Regions from separate parts of the Homo sapiens genome. Here regions 1 and 2 are each linked to region 3. The links come from fine-mapping of genetic effects on gene expression. A gene starts in region 3. Each other region holds a variant in brackets. All regions are shown on one strand. Distances are from middle to middle.

Region 1 (2,801 bases), 110 kb before region 3:
CCAGCACTTTGGGAGACTGAGGCAGGTGGATCACCTGAGGTCAGGAGTTTGAGACCCACCTGACCAACATGGAGAAACCCCATCTCCACTAAAAATACAAAAATTAGCTGGGCGTGGTGGCGGGTGTCTGTAATCCCAGCTACTTGGGAGGCTGAGGCAGAAGAATCGCTTGAACCCAGGAGGCAGATGTTGCAGGGAGCCGAGATCACGCCATTGCACTCCAGCCTGGGCAACAAGAGCAAAACTCTGTCTCAAAAAAAAAAGAAAAAAAAAAGATGAGACTCGTTTATGAAACTGGATTCCTCTTAAACCACAAATCCATCTGAATGGTATTCATTTCATGCTTGATAAATTTCAAGACCTGATTATTTTGCAATATCAATGTTGATAAAAGTTAAATATTAACCAGATAATCGAAAGTTATCCTTTAACGTCTGCTACCATAGAATAAGAATTTCAGACTGACCCCCAGTGACAGGAAACTTTGAAAAGGCGTGTGCCTGAAGAAACGTATCGATTGGCATGTTAAAAAATACATGTATTGGCCGGGCATGGTGGCTCATCCCTGTAATCCCTGCACTTTGGGAGGCCGAGGCAGGTGGATCACTTGAGGTCAGGAGTTTGAGACCAGCCTGGCCAATGTGGTGAAATCCCGTCTGTACTAAAAAAAAAAAAAAAAAAAAAAAATACAAAAATTAGCCAGGCGTGGTGGCAGGCCTGTAATCCCAGCTACTGAGGCCGAGGCACGAGAATCACTTGAACTCAGGAGGTGGAGGTTATAGTGAACTGAGATCATACTACTGCACTCTCCAGACTGGGTGACAGAGTGAGACACTGTCTCAAAAAAAAAAAGATTACATTTCTCCTTTTTTAGATAAATAAAGAGGAAAGAGAAAGGGGAGGGGGAGCAAGGGGTGTAAGAGGGAGAAAGAAAAGAGAGAAAGGAGAGAACGCGCGGGGGTTCTCGGTCATGTGGAGGCAGCAGTCATGTGCTGACTCTGAAAACTGAAAAAAAAAAAAAAATAGTGACAGCAAGCTGCTGCCTGTGGCCAACTCTCCCAGGGATTCTCACAACGCCAGGGAAGGGAACAGAGAAAACCACAAAGGTTGACACAAGAACAGATGCTTGATAAATGTTTATTGGATAAACGAGCGAAGGATAATCACCTGAGCACCATAGTTGCCAAAGCCCCCTCTAGTCCCAAACCTAAGCCCACACTCTGTCCCCTTGCAAGTAAAGAAATGCACCAAGCAGGGCTTATGCAGCAGCCCTCGGTCTGGCCTGGCTGGAGCTATAAACATGCATGCTCCGAAAAGCCGCCTCGCGGAAGGTATTCCTTTAAC[T/C]GCAGGTGTTTGTTGCCCTTGGCACAGCAATATGTAATTTCCCATTTTTAGAACAATGCTCCAAAGAACGGTCACAAAAACAACCTTAAGAGGGGGTGGTTTTCTTCCTGGCCGCTTCTACAGTCCTGTAAAACAACAACAAAGAGATTTATATTCAACACACTATTTGCATCTCTCCATAAAATCAGAAGATGGTTCGTTAACTTTGCACCAACTGAAAGAAGGTCCCCCCACTCCTTGCTAGGGCATCCAAACAAATGCTTGCCTCTGGAAGGGATAGATTTGGAAAGGATCCTGCTGTTGGGTCTCTTTTGGTCTTGCCACGCCTCCCTCTGTGTGGTTTCTGTGCGGCAAGGGTGGAAAGGAAGCTTGCATAAAGCCCGAGTCTGTCCTTTTGGTGCCCCCCATACAAGCCCGAGACCAGAAGAGGACAGTGTGTTCCCAAGAACATTCAAATAACAGAGGAAGGTAGGAACCGTGAAAACAGCTGCCACCTCCAGCCTCAGCCATTAAGAAATCCCTTTCATTATCATCTCCAAACTGACTTTCTCTCTTCCCTTTCCTCTTCATGAACCCTTTCTGCTTCATGAACCCAAGCAACTGGCTTTGAGACTTCATGGCCCTTCACCTTCCCTCCCTGTCGTCTCCCAGAGCCTAACTACTACATCTTCTGTCCCAGCCCAGTGCCTCCTCCCCGAGTCACACCCAACTCATCCCCATCGGACTCCCATGAATGCGCAGGTTGTCCTCTCATGGGCCTCCTGGCCTGGTCTCTCTCACCTCCCACGTGGGCCTGCATGCCCCAGGCTTCATCTTACACCTCCTGCGCTCAAGAAAGTTCAGCAACTCCTTTTCCAACAGAAACAAATCCAGCTTTCGGGCCAGGCGCAGTGGCTCACGCCTGTAATCCCAGCACTTTGGGAGGCCGAGGCAGGCGGACCTCCTAAGGTCAGGAGTTCAAGACCAGGCTGACCAACATGGTGAAACCCTGCCTCTACTAAAAAGAAATACAAAAATTAGCCGGGTGTGGTGGCACACACTGTAATCCCAGCTACTCAGGAAACTAAGGCAGAAGAATCACTTGAATCCGGGAGGCAGAGGTTGCACAGTGATCCAAGATCCTGTCACTGCACTTCAGCCTGGACAACATGGCAAGACCCTGTCTCAAAAAAAAAAAAAAAAAAAAAAGCCAGCTTTCTTAATGGGACCTCATCTGGAACCAGGCCTCCTTTCCTACTTTATCTTCTACTAGTCCCTACACAAGTTTCAAGCACCAACCAAAATCACCTGCTCACCCTTCCCAAACTTTACCTTGGCTCCTAAAAACTACCTCCTGCCCTCCCCCTAATTGAGAATGACCTTCCTGGTCTTCTCTCTGTGACTAAATCCTACCCATTTTTGAAGACTCAGCCAAATAATACCACCATCTGACCACTCTAGTTCAAAATGCCCCCCTT
Region 2 (2,662 bases), 120 kb before region 3:
TCATCCTAAAGCACATACCTTTGCGCTGGTGGGCCATCCGCCTGGATGAGTATTGTTTCATCGGATAAGCTTCCAGAGCCATAAAAGGTTCAGAATTTTAATTGCCTATTCACAGCCAAGGGAAACATTTACCCAGGGCCAATGCAAGGCAGGTATCTGAGGAAAAGAAGCACAATTACGGTGCAGAGAGGCTTGAGGCTGGGGACAACACTGCAGGAATCACTGTGGGTGATTCACAAGAATGTGGGCTATGCCAATCCACAGAAATGGGCGTTAAATTTTAAAACAGCAGAATGCAAAGATAAACTGATTGCAACCACAGGAAGAGCATGTAACTGTGTGATGCATGTTGACAGAAAGCAGGAAATTCGAGAAATGAAGGCACTGTTCACTGGGTGCTTTTCTGTCTGTGTGTAGTTACTCACACCAGTTACTCGTGTATTATAGCATGGGTCTGTAGACTATGGCCAGCAGGCTAAGCTCAGGCTATGGCCTATTTTTTTTTTTTTTTTTTTTTGAGACGGTTTCTCACTCTGTGGCCCAGGATGGAGTACAGTGGCGCAATCTCGGCTCACTGCAACCTCCACCTCCCAGGTTCAAGTGATTCTCCTGCCTCAGCCTCCCAAGTAGCTGGGATTACAGGCGCATGCCACCATGGCTGGCTAATTTTGTATTTTTAGTAGAGACAGGTTTCACCATGTTGGTCAGGCTGGTCTTGAACTCCCGACCTCAGGTGATCCGCCCACCTCAGCCTCCCAAAGTGTTGGGATTACAGGCATGAGCCACCGTGCCTGGTCATTTGTTTGTATTCTTAGTAGAGACGGGGTTTCACCATGTTGGTCAGGCTAGTCTCAAACTCCTGACCTCAGGTGATCCACCCGCTTCGGCTTCCCAAAGTGCTGGGATTACAGGCTTGAGCCACCACGCCCCGCTAAGACCACATTTCTTGATCACATTGTCAAGAAAACTGAATCTGAGTGAAAAACTTTTTGAAAGTATCTGTTAACCCTGAAATCTGCAACCAAAGGAAACTTACTCTGGAGGAAAGCTAAAGCAGAATGGTAGTTGTCAAACACCGCCATCACGTTGCAAAATCCAGGGGCTTGTGTCAATGTGCCTGGACTAATTGATCAGTAGGAAAGCTGCCGTTGTGTATGAGAGACAGTTGAGGTTAGCCTGACAGAAATATCTGTAAATGACTCATGAGGCAGGAAGAAG[A/C]AGCAAAACCAGCCTTCATTAGCCTTATCACGATGATATGGATAAAATTATGTCTAGTTTGCAGCTGATGCAAGCCCTGCTGTTTTCGAAAGCCAAGGGATTTGTGGGCAGTAATCACCATAGGGGTGTCTGCCACTCAAAATGGCTTCAGATAGACGATCAAGAGAAGTTTTATTGATGATGATGAGGCCACACAAACAATGCATTCTGAAACATGTAATTAGGGGATGTTCCTCCCAAGCACTTTCAGAATACACCAACAGGCACATGGGGATAATGTGAGGATGAATCATCAGTAGTTAGCCACCCAACATATTTCCATGAGCAAACTAAAATTATAAAACTATAGTACATGCAAAAAAATCTGAAAATAGACTGGGCACGGTGGCTCACGCCTATAATCTCAGCACTTTGGGAGGCCGAAGCAGGCGGATCACCTGAGGTCGGGAGTTCGAGACCAGCCTGACCAACATGGAGAAACCCTGTCTCTACTAAAAATACAAAATTAGCCAGGCATGGCGGTGGGTGCCTGAAATCCCAGCTACTCGGGAGGCTGAGGCAGGAGAATCGCTTGAACCTGGGAGGCAGAAGTTGCAGTGAGCCAAGATCGCACCATTGCACTCCAGCCTGGGCAACAAGAGCAAAACTCTGTCCCCAAAAAAAAAAAAATCTGAAAATACATTTAGCTAAGCTAGCATGGGAATTGATTGCCAGCTTGGGAATTGATAAACCGGGGGTTTGGAACTCAGATTTGTTACCCCATCAAGTGAATGGATTCCCAGCTAATCACAAGAGTCTAGTTAACTCTGAAAATACCTGCAGTTATATGCCCATAGCTGTAACTGCCCGGTGGGTTCACCTTGCTCGCTGCCTGGACGGAGCCAATTTATCAAGACAGGGGAATTGCAGTGGAGAAGGAGTAATTCACACAGAGCTGGTGTGTGGGAGACTGGGTTTTATTATTACTCCAAACAGTCTCCCTGAGCATTCGGGGATCGGGGTTTTTAAAGATAATTTGGCGGGTAAGGGCTTGGGAAGCAGGGAGTGCTGATTGGTCAGGCTGGAGATGGAATCCTAGGGGGTGGAAGTGTGGTTTTCTTGCTGTCTTCTGTTCCTGGGGAGGATGGCAGAAATGGTTGAGCCAGATTACCAGTCTGGGTTGTGTCAGCTGATCCATCGAATGCAGGGTCTGCAAACTATCTCAAGCACTGATCTTAGGTTTTACAATAGTGATGTTATCTGCAGGAGCAATCTGGGGAGGCTCAGACTCTTGGAGCCAGAGGCTGCATGACCGCTAAACTAAATTTCTAATCTTGTAGCTAATTTGTTAGTCTTGCAAAGGCAGACTGGTCCACAGGCAAGAATGGGGTTTTTTTTAGGGAAATGGCTATTATCAATTTTGTTTCAGAGTCAAAACATGAACTGAATTCCTTCCCAAAGTTAG
Region 3 (2,801 bases):
CCACCTTGTTGTGGGGCCTCGGCTACAGCTGAGAACACCCATCTGCCCCCTCCGCACCCCTCCCAGCAAGGGGCACAGCCAGCCCTGTTTGGGCCCCTGGAGTCCCTCATGGTCAGCGCCGCCAAGGGGCTGCGCCCCCACATCCCGGCCTGGGCACTGCTGGGGGGCGACCAGCCCTGCCAGGGACGGCCCAGGCCCTCGCACACTGCACACACACACCCCCTCCCCTTGCATGGGAAAGCCTTACATAACACAGCTCTGCACACACCCTAAGCACGCTGCCTTTCCAACTCTAGGCGAGACCTCGCTTCGGGCCCCCTCTCCTGGCGCGCACCGCTGGAGCGCAGGGTTCCAGCGAGCGCAGCTTAGCCCTCCTCCCACGCCAAGCCCGGCTCCTGCCCCCAACTCCCACACACAGCCCCTTCCTCCTCCCCTTTGCCCCTCACCACTCCTCCCTGAGTTCTGGTTTGAATTAGTCACCGGCTCCAACCACCACATTCCTCAGGCTGCTGGCGCCGGGCCAGGCTCTGGGGCGGGGGCCATCCCGCCCGGACGGGTTTGGGAGTTGGGCGGGGGGAAAGCGCCGCCTCCGGAGGGGAAGGGGCGGTCCCGAGGACTGGGCCGCCGCAGCGCACCCCCCTCCTCGCCCACCTCAGCATAGGAATCTCCCTAATTTTGTCCCCCTCCCCACCCATCCCGCTGGGAGGCGCATTGCAAACTTCCAGGTTCCGCGGCCCGAGAGGAAGGTTTTCTGGAGCGGGGAACGCGGAGAGGCAAGGCTAGGGCGGGGCAGCTGGAGGAGGCTGAGGGGCTGGTGGTACAGAACAGGGTGGGGCCTGGACGACTCGGGACGCGGTTAGGGGCAGAGGTGCAGGGAGCGCGGAAGGACAGCCGAGGGGGCGCACGGTGCGGGGTCGCGGAGGCGCGGAGGCGCTGGGGGCCGCGGTGGCGATCTCGGAAATTTCCCCTCCAGTAAACATGGGATACGAACGGAGCAGCCCCCGAGCCACCGCCCCATGCAGGGAGAGGAGGTGGGACAGAGGCCACCAGGCCCGGAACGGGGCGCCCTGCCTTGCAGTGGAGCCAACAGTCCGCCCTCCGGAGAAATAAAGAGTGGAGCAAAGCACTTCGGAGCGATTTTCCAACTTTAACCAACTTGCGCCCCAACTCCAGAGGCAGAACTCCGCTCCCAGAGAGCGACGCGTCGCCGCCCCGGGTGGCCCCGCTTGCTCCAAACTGCTTGAATCCTCACAGTGACACCCCCAACAACGCGCCCTGCCGGAGCACCGCAACCCACCTCCCCGCGACCCGCCCTTGGTGCCCCGGACCCCGATGGCGCCACGGTGCGCCTGGCGCCCCTACCTGAGGGCTCAGCCCCAGGGCACGGCCATAGCCGGCGCGAGGCCCAAGGCTGCGGTGCTGCGGCTACTGGCGGCGACGAGCCCCGTTCCGGGCGGGTCTGGCAGGGCGGGCGGTGCAGTCCCCGCGGCAGAGCAGCTCCGAGTGGCCGGGCCCCCGTGCGCGGAGGCGGCTCTTGTAACTCCGGCTCGGGCGGGCGGGTCTGCCCGGAGCTGTGGGGAGAGGGCGGGGCCGGGCGGGGCCGGAGCGGGGCTGGGACTGGCGAGCGGGGCAGACCCTGGAGGGACCCGGGAGTGGGCTGCTGGGGAGGGGGGCCGCTGGGGGACGCGGGGACATTCTTTCCCCCCCTCCCCGCATCCACTGCCCCCTGTCCTGTCCCGGACCTGGACCTGCTCTCCAACATGTGCACTGTGTGGCTTCATTGGCAAGAAACTCCTGCAGGCTCCCTGGGCTCACCCTCACAGCTGGAACTGCGAATCAACTTATTTTGCAGGAAGGGCCTGGGGGCTCTGAAGGTGGCTGGGTGATTCAGCCGCGACCGTCAGCTTGCTCCGGACCTTTGAGTTTTCTCTCAGCTTAGGCAACTACACTTCAGATCCCAGGCCCCAGCCTCCTTGCTTGGTTCCCAAGCTCCGTGCTGCCGCGCCCATTTCTCGCGTTCTCTCTTTCTGGGGGCCCCTCCGTCCATATCCGCACAGAACTGGCTTGGATTTCCACCCCCCAGGAGCCGGGGTCACCAGTGCCTCGCGCACCGCGGTGCTGCGCAGGCCGCGGGCATACGGGGGTGAGGACCCCGGGCGTTGGACAGCGGACCCGACGCCCACCTTCCTCTCCAGACTCCCGCCCCCAGGAGCCAGAGCCCCAGCGCTTCCTCTGCCTCCCATTCCTTCTCTGAGCGCCGCCCCCGCCTCCCCACTTGCGGGACGCTGAGTCTCCTAATTTACAGCGATTTCCCACAGCCACTTCTAACTACATCGAGATTTTATTAAACGTTTAATGATGGGGTGCGGGGGCCTTCTGGCTACACACTCCCCTCCACACTCCCTTTCTCTTCTCCCTCATGAGTCCTTTTATCCTCCCTCCTAGGTGGCCACCCACTGCCCGCTCCAAGCCAGTTTCCCCTCCTTCCCAAATGCTAAGGAAAGAGAGACCCCAGGCTGGGGAACTAAGGAGACCTGGCCAAGGCAGGAGCGCCCTCCTTGCTGCAAGATCATGAGTGGGCTGGAGCTGAGACCAGCTCGGCCCTGTCCTCTGAAATGGCAAACATGTTTACAGGCTAAAAATACCCAGCAGTCAACTCTGCTGCCAGCCCTGGGGGCTGTGTCCAGGTCCAGTTACCGGCACAGAGTACAGGCCGTGGGGGAGGGAAGAGACAGCCAGAGGAACCACAGACATGGGCACTCATATAATGGACACAGAAAGGTGGAGCCGCATGTGCAGAC

Alleles and levels. Alleles are on the strand shown, and positions count from the first base shown. SD is a standard deviation of normalised expression in the study named.
With allele T in place of C in region 1, the expression in NK cells of the gene that starts at base 1,509 in region 3 is higher (large effect, 1.3 SD a copy in Gilchrist 2021).
For the expression in monocytes after interferon gamma of the gene that starts at base 1,509 in region 3, allele A in region 2 goes with a higher level than allele C (large effect, 1.1 SD a copy in Fairfax 2014).

The links.
Region 1: its variant is fine-mapped to the expression of AHNAK in NK cells (Gilchrist 2021, PIP 0.95). The same link has a PIP of 0.9 or more in monocytes, monocytes after LPS and monocytes after interferon gamma.
Region 2: its variant is fine-mapped to the expression of AHNAK in monocytes after interferon gamma (Fairfax 2014, PIP 0.95).

Annotation. Positions count from the first base shown.
Region 1 is chr11:62,432,423-62,435,223 of GRCh38, forward strand. It overlaps a transcript of AHNAK not described here. Among named protein-coding and RNA genes, the nearest start is that of SCGB1A1, 15 kb to the left of the region's middle. RefSeq lists enhancers at 1,651-2,152, 2,153-2,652. The variant T/C (reference allele first, on the strand shown) is at 1,345.
Region 2 is chr11:62,426,669-62,429,330 of GRCh38, forward strand. LOC102723765 (a long non-coding RNA gene) reads right to left here and starts at 255. Exons shown (of 4, transcript XR_007062699.1): 1 at 19-255. RefSeq lists an enhancer at 1-40. The variant A/C (reference allele first, on the strand shown) is at 1,219.
Region 3 is chr11:62,545,298-62,548,098 of GRCh38, forward strand. AHNAK (AHNAK nucleoprotein) reads right to left here and starts at 1,509. Exons shown (of 5, transcript NM_001620.3): 1 at 1,363-1,509. RefSeq lists enhancers at 16-526, 527-1,037, 1,616-2,146 and silencers at 181-310, 841-960, 971-1,020, 1,301-1,370, 1,491-1,660.